Linked DNA regions of Homo sapiens. The protein of the gene in region 1 interacts with the protein of each later gene in a pairwise test. Each region holds a gene or a part of one and is shown on either strand. Other genes may lie near its edges.

Region 1 (3,820 bases):
TCATGTGGTTTCTGGGTCCTGAATAGATGCATATCTGAAGTTGGTATACTTAGGTACCTGATTTTCTCTCCAGTACGAAAGACAAATTTCTAATAGACATTTACTCTTGGCTGTATTTCAAAGCCAGGGACGCATTTTCTTATTTGGGCTTAAAACCCCACCCTATGATACTGAAGTTAGGAAAAAGGAAAGAGACTCAGCCACCTGCCTGCAGATGCTCTCTGACTGATTCTTGGATGAACCTGCCTCTTATCTCTTCTAGTCCGATTCATAGTCCTGTCCAACAACTACCTGCAGATCCGGGGCATCAAGAAAACAGATGAGGGCACTTATCGCTGTGAGGGCAGAATCCTGGCACGGGGGGAGATCAACTTCAAGGACATTCAGGTCATTGTGAATGGTGAGGAGAGTCCGTTCTTCCTGATCTCTGCATTGCTACAACCTTGGTTCTCCAAAATCATTCTCTTTAACTTCCTCTTGGGTCTGTAAATTAAATCCTGTCCTGACTCAATCATCCGTCTGAGCTAAATCCCCTCCCCACCGTAACATCTAGATTTCTTTTTTTTTTTTTTTTTAATATACTTGCCTGTTGGATCTTCCTTCAACTACGAGGGATTTTAGTGCAGCAACTGAATGTCCTTCACCGTTCTGCAGCACTAAAAACTTTCCCCCTGCTTACCTATTAATCCTCATTGTCCTTGATGTTACCATAATTGTGAAGTTATTCCGCTGCTTAAATGTTCAAAGAAAGTATTAAGTCAACTCAGGCCTCAGAATAGTCAGAATCATGGTCCATAGGCTTGTTAATCTTAACTTGCAGTGTCAAATAAACACACCCATGGAATTGATCTGACATTTACAAGATGTTTACAGGAAATTATAATGTCAGTACTAAGAAAATAAGTAAATCAGGGTTGAATTGTTTTGACTATTGACACATATTTTTTTTGCCAAACTCTCCCCATCTCATTCCTTTGGTAAAAAACAGTTTTGTACAAGGTTGTTTATCACAGTCCCAGAGAAATGGCACTCTTTGTTATAGCTGATGCATTCGAATTGGTGTTAACCATTTAACCACTGGGAGCAGTAATGTCCAACTTTTTCCAGTACAAAGAGCTCCTTTTTAACATCAAGTTTCACTGAACCTGGTAGTTATTAAGTTTAGTATGCATTGACTGAGAAAATACATAATGAAGAATAGTGACTATAAATTGAATACCATCTTAACATGCATAAAATGTATTACTATAGCTTCTCAATTAATGAAAAACAAAAATGCATGTTTGTAGAACTGTCTATTCAGTTTGCAGAAGTTATTTAGTACATACATGAATTTCAATTCCTGACACTAACTCTGTAGCTGCACACGACGTTTGTCCCACAGGCTGAGAACTCCTGACCTGGAGTGGTGTCTCTTCTCCAGGCCATTGGGTTCTTCCAAATTTTCACAACCACCCCATGACACCCTTTTTTCCTTCAGTGCCACCTACCATCCAGGCCAGGCAGAATATTGTGAATGCCACCGCCAACCTCGGCCAGTCCGTCACCCTGGTGTGCGATGCCGAAGGCTTCCCAGAGCCCACCATGAGCTGGACAAAGTAAGAAACTGGCTCATACCTTTTATCATGGACTAGAGGAGAATGGGGCATCACAAAGTCTGCTCCATGTTAGTGTCTGCGTGGAATGGATGTGGGCTTCTTAGGAATATTAACCCCAGGAGAAGAATGGACTCTTTTCTATAAGATTCTCTTGCTTGTGCATTGATTATTCCTTCAATTTCAGCCTTGTGGGGGCAGAGTCAGAGCCAGAGGGTGTGGTCTTGGGAGCCCACTTTGAAACATTTGTGGGTACAGTTGCAGCCCTTGGATAGTCAGAGGATGGAATAGAGGAATAAGAGGTGTATGTGGACGTTCAACTTGGTGCCTTAACTTTTTGTGAAGACTGAGGAGTCTTTCCCATTGACTCAGTCTGCATTCTATGGAACCTAATTAAAAATAAACGTCTTATTTCTGTGGTCGAAATCATGCTACTTTGCATTTCTACATGCTCTAGGGATGGGGAACAGATAGAGCAAGAGGAAGACGATGAGAAGTACATCTTCAGCGACGATAGTTCCCAGCTGACCATCAAAAAGGTGGATAAGAACGACGAGGCTGAGTACATCTGCATTGCTGAGAACAAGGCTGGCGAGCAGGATGCGACCATCCACCTCAAAGTCTTTGGTAGGGGCAGTGGGGGCCCAGGTCACTGCTCTGCCACAATTCCCCTTCCTCTGCACATTCAGTCCATCAGTAAGACCCTGGCCACTGTCCCTCAGAACATAACCCAATGCAACCATTTCTTGCCAGTTCCACCACCTAGTCCAAGCCCTAGTCCAAGCCACCATCATCCTCACCTGAGCAGTGGGACGGTCTCATAGCTGGCCTCCCCGACTCTCCCTATTGGTCCACTTCATTCACTTCTGCTCACAGTAGTCAGAATGACCTAAGTACCACTCATCTGTTTGAAAGCCTCCAGTGGCTCCCTATGGCAACCAGAATAAAATTCAGACTCCCTGCAATGGCCTACAAGACCAGAGATGAACTAGCTCCTGCCTTCTTCTCCAGCCTCATCTTTCTTTCGCTTTGCTGCACATGCAAAGTTCTCCAACCACACAGGCCTTCTTCATGTCCCTCAGACATACCAAGCTTGTTCTTCATCTCAGGATCACTGCCCTAGGTTTCTCTTCTGCTTGGAATATCTTTCCCTCTGATCCACTCTGAGCTGCCTTCTTCTGATCCACCATTCAGATCTTAACTCAAACTCACCTTCTCAGCGGCGCCTTCCTTCACTGCCCTGGCTAATTCAACTCCCTCTGCACTGCGACCACCCCCACCCACCTCCACTCATCTCTCTCTCGTGACTCTTACTGTATCTTCTTTGCTGTACTTAACAGTACCTGAACAGATGTCATTTGCATATTTGTTTTGGGGATTGTCTGTCTCCTACCTCTACTAGTGTGTAAACTTCAAGATAGCATAACCCTGGCTGTCATACACGGCGTTATCCCTGTGACTCCAAACAGTGCCAGACTTGGCATAGGCCCTTGGTAACTTTAGTGGTCGATGGGCTGGCTGCTTTGCCTTGTTTGCCTCCTTCCCTGACCTGTGCAAAACAGTGTCATGGAAGAGCCCCCACATCCCTGCTCACTTCATCTTCATAAACTCAGGAAACTTCCATTCATTTCAGAACTGAAAAGCATTTTGACCTGATCTTGAAAAAAGAATTGGTTGCAGAGAAACGTTTAACCTAATGGCCCTCAAGTCTCTCCGCGTGTCTGTTTAGAAAACACAGATAAACTGGTCTACTGTAGACAGCACTGGGGAAGTGCCAGTCTGAGGCGCAGCTCTGGTGCATGGAGCCCCCAGGTCATTAAAATGTGCACCTGGGAATCAGGGTTGGGACCTGCTTATCCAGCCTGATAAGGAGAACTGTTCATAAACACAGACCTTTGAAAATCAAGACTTTATATGCAAATGTCCTGCTAGTTATTCAGTAGTAAACAGCTGGGTTTAGAAACAGGCTATCAGTTAGGTTCAAGTTAACCGTACGTATTTGAGAGAGAAAGCTAAACTTCATGAAAAATATTCTTGAAAGTCTTTTCTTGAATTCAGACTGATCTTCCCCAATCACTATGGTTTTAGTAAGTTTTTCCATATTGTAGAAAAAGATAGATGCATTTGTTAATTAATCCCTTCATTTAATAAATACGTATGGATCACCATTGTTGCTGGACAGAGGGGCTACAGAGATGAATAGGATATGATCCCTTGACCCTGGG
Region 2 (3,820 bases), on another chromosome or scaffold:
TTAATAGTATCTTCTGAGCAATACAATCTGGCACTTACTGGTTTGTCTTTTTTTTCTTACAAATAGAATACCTATTATGTTGGTTGGGAATAAGAAAGACCTGCATATGGAAAGGTATGTAGCTTTTATAAAGTCAAATCTAAGATGATTTAGTCACTGAAGTATCATTTTAATTATTGTTCTGATGTCAAGAATATTTTTAGCTGTAGCATTTTTATCCGTTCAGAGGTGTTATGGTCGTGTGCAGCAGAAGCAAAAGTGGAATAGAAATCTCACATTCCTCTAGAAAAGAGAGAGCAAACTTTATAGGAAACTACCTTTAGGTTATCTGCCACTTTGCATAAAGCAAATTCTAAAAAGACATAGTGCTCATTTATGCAGCAAGTGGTTTTTGAGTACCAGGGTTTGGGATTACAGTGAGGAGCAAAGGAGGCAGATGTCCCCTGCCCAGGCAGCTTCATGTCAGAGAGGAAGAGACTCTACAGCCTGCATGCAAGAGAATTGAGCTTTCAGGCTCTTTCACAATTTCCCCTGGCCTTGGGTGCTTACAACCTAGCTGTAAAATAGTCAATTGTTACAGATACGGGAGTACTGGAAAATAAGATCATGTTCTCTGAGCTGGAAGGTTTGCTGGAGCATGGATAATCCCATAAAGCAATGTCTATTCTGTTCCCCAGCTCAGGCGTAATTAAAACACTCCTGTGTTACATTCTTGATGCTAATGTTAGGCCAGGGCATGGTTCTGCTTCATGAGAAAGAAATTGACCAAAATGGAGCCTGTTTCATAAATCAATTATACATGTTTTATATAATGAAGAGCAAAGTACTTTAACTAGAATTTTATTTTTTCTTTAGGGTGATCAGTTATGAAGAAGGGAAAGCTTTGGCAGAATCTTGGAATGCAGCTTTTTTGGAATCTTCTGCTAAAGAAAATCAGGTAACAGATTCTATAAACCTCATTTTGCATTGCGTTCTCATCAGTCGCAGGGATGTGTTCCTTGCAGTTGGCATTTGACCTCTGTCTTGATCACTCCTGTGTAACATCTGGCCTTCCTCCATTTCTAATACCAAGTTTTGTGTTGCTTTAGGAAGATACTACTTAGGTGTTTATAAATTCAGTCAGTATTCTACTTACAGTGGAACCTAGGATATTTGTAGGATAAACAGAAACTATTAGTAAAGGAAATACTACCTTTTGTAAACATATATTTTTGGTTTGTATTAATAGCTGGTACAGAAATAAGTCCATACAGGGGAAAAAAAAAGAATTATATCACTTTAGTACTAATTTTGTAACTACCCACCCCCTGGCTTTTTTTCTGTTAGATGAAACCGGGTCAGACGTACGTGTTAATTGTTAACATAGAAATGATGAAGAACCATCTTATAAGCATTTAGTACCAATTTCACCCCGCAGATGTGCCTTCAAAGGCATGTTCTGGGAAGGATGTAGATTCTGCCTCCGGAGGCTTCACAGTCCTGTATGAGCCCTTCTCTTCCATTGCTCTAATTTAGACCCCCGGCACCAAGCTTGTCTCCCGCCCCCAGTGCATTTTTCACCTATACATTTTTTTTGCTGCCCTTAATTTTCTAAAGATACACATCTGATGGTATCATCCTCTACTCAGAAACTGTCAGTGAACTGCCCCTTCTCTATAGAACCCTTCGCCTGGTCCTGAATGCAGTCAATAATTTGTTCTTTTCTAGTTTCTTCTCTCACCACGTTCTTGTACTTTCCATCACATCAAACTGCTCCCTTCCTTAAACACACCATCTCCTGTCCACCCCACTTTCAAAATGTCTCACCTTTCCTCATGCTCCCCTCCGGTTTAAAATAGCCCTTCTCTAAGTATCTACTTAGGTTCATGTGGGGTTTTATATTTTGAATGTGTTTTCAACATGTGGTGGTGTTTGATCCTCAGGTAAGATGACTTGGTTTTCATTTCTCTGAGGAAACTCTAGTATAGTAGGGTGGTGCCTCCTCCCTGGGAGGGCCGGGCGCCAGCAGCCTTGGCACTCTTCCTTCCCTGCCCCGCCCCTCTCCGCAGCACGGAGGTTTGTAGTCCTCAAGGCCCCACCTAGATTTCACCTTCTTGTTGACCCCCTCTGGATCCATCCAGCTGAAAGAAATTGTGGTTTCTTCTCTTAGCCCTCTTAATTTGTTCTGAGATCTGAGTCAGTATCATTTATATAAATATCCTTCATAATGTTTAGCACAGTGGGTTATCCGTCAGCCCAAGTATCCTGTGATAGTCAAATTGGCTTTGTCCTGTGTTGGGATATGGAGGGATAGTGAATCCATGTGGTTATGTCCTCTTATGTGCGGATGAAAAAAACTGATTAAACAGATGTGTGTAATTCGTTCCCAAGTTCCAGATAGCAAGGGATTTATCGAAGTCAGCTCAGTTTCTGAGTATACACAGAATTCAAATAAGAATTGAGATAGTTAAGAGATACCTATATTTTAAAAATTGAATTAAATCCATTGAGTGCCTATGGACTGTATCCTTCAGATCATGTAGTTAAACCGCCTCATTTTAGAAGTGAGGAAATTAAGTTTCAGAGAAGTTAAATGACTTTTCTAAGATCACCCACTACCTTACGTGGTATAAGAACTAGGACTGAATTGTAGATCTCATCCACATCTAGTCCTTTTTTCTCTACACACTGCTTCCTGTCAATCAGGTGATCTGAAGCCGGTGACCTAGATTAGACAAGCGGGGTGGGACCTGGGGTTGGCTTCAGTTAACTAGGAGGACAGACGCCTCATTCATACCAACAGGACAGAAGGCTGAGGATGGGAGCCCACATTCAAGTGGGTGGGTCAGCTTGGTGGATGGAGGATGTGGAGTTCTTTCATGAATGTGGCTTCTGTTTTCCAGTGAAGTGTGTAAAACAAGGTTTTCAGCTGAGCGTAAGCACGGGGAACATTTGAGGAGAAGGGACAAGGCGTGGATGCTTTCTCTGGGGAGTGCCCAGATCCAGGGATGCAGGCGGGTGGCTAGGCAGCACCAAGTGTCTGCGCCAGGTTCCTGGTCATGGGTGTGAGGTCAGCAGTGAGCGGTGTGTGTTTTCCCTGGGCAGCGTTTACGGTGTGGCCGCGGGCACCGTGCCAGCGACAGTTGGTAGGGAAGGGAGTTGAAGTACAGTGGCGCCATGGTGGCCTGCTGAGTCTGAGCTGACCGAGAGGGAAAGGAGCAGCAAGAAGTGGTTAAGGGACAGGGGAGATGTAATAATAGGGTCAACAAATCAGGCCCCTTGTGGGGCTGAGAATTGTTGCTTCAGGATAGCTAGAGAAAGAGCTGGGAAGGTGGTGTGGTGGGACGCTGGCAGTTGGTGTGTTCTGGTTTCGTGGGATAGTGGAAGTCACTGGAGTGATGGGGGAGGGGGATTCTTGGTGATTAGGAGAACAGGGTACTTCCTGTGGGGCTTCTGAGAACAGGGGCAGTTTTTCATGACCACAGGACTGCATTTCAAGGACAGGGTCTGGGAGTCACGGTGGCTCAGGCCTGTTGTCCTGGTGCATAAGGAGGCGAGGCTAGGCTTTCGAGGCCAGCCTGGGCAACATAGAAACCTCCAATCTGTATAACAAAAAAGGAAAAATAAAGGACAGGGTCTGACAGTTCTCCTCCCCACTCAGTGTAGGAAGAGTTCCTGCTCCAAGTGGCCATGATTCCTGTCTGTGGTGAAGGACTGGTGGGGTTGACCCTGGGCTGAGGCTGAGGGCAGGAAGACGGGCAGGAGAGGAGAGGCCAGGAGATAGGGAGGGCAGTTTGTGGATTGAAATGACCGAGAATTACGCCACAGAGGTGTTGGAGGC

Evidence for each region.
Region 2: the proteins of NCAM1 (region 1) and RHEB interact in a two-hybrid assay, tested with the Homo sapiens proteins (one large-scale study listed by BioGRID and IntAct).

The regions. Positions count from the first base shown.
Region 1 is NC_000011.10:113,205,781-113,209,600, forward strand, and holds part of NCAM1 (neural cell adhesion molecule 1 isoform 2 precursor), read left to right. Parts: intron 1-262; coding exon 263-400; intron 401-1,480; coding exon 1,481-1,598; intron 1,599-2,052; coding exon 2,053-2,222; intron 2,223-3,820.
Region 2 is NC_000007.14:151,467,688-151,471,507, reverse strand, and holds part of RHEB (GTP-binding protein Rheb), read left to right. Parts: intron 1-66; coding exon 67-114; intron 115-855; coding exon 856-937; intron 938-3,820. UniProt on the Homo sapiens protein: Small GTPase that acts as an allosteric activator of the canonical mTORC1 complex, an evolutionarily conserved central nutrient sensor that stimulates anabolic reactions and macromolecule biosynthesis to promote cellular biomass generation and growth.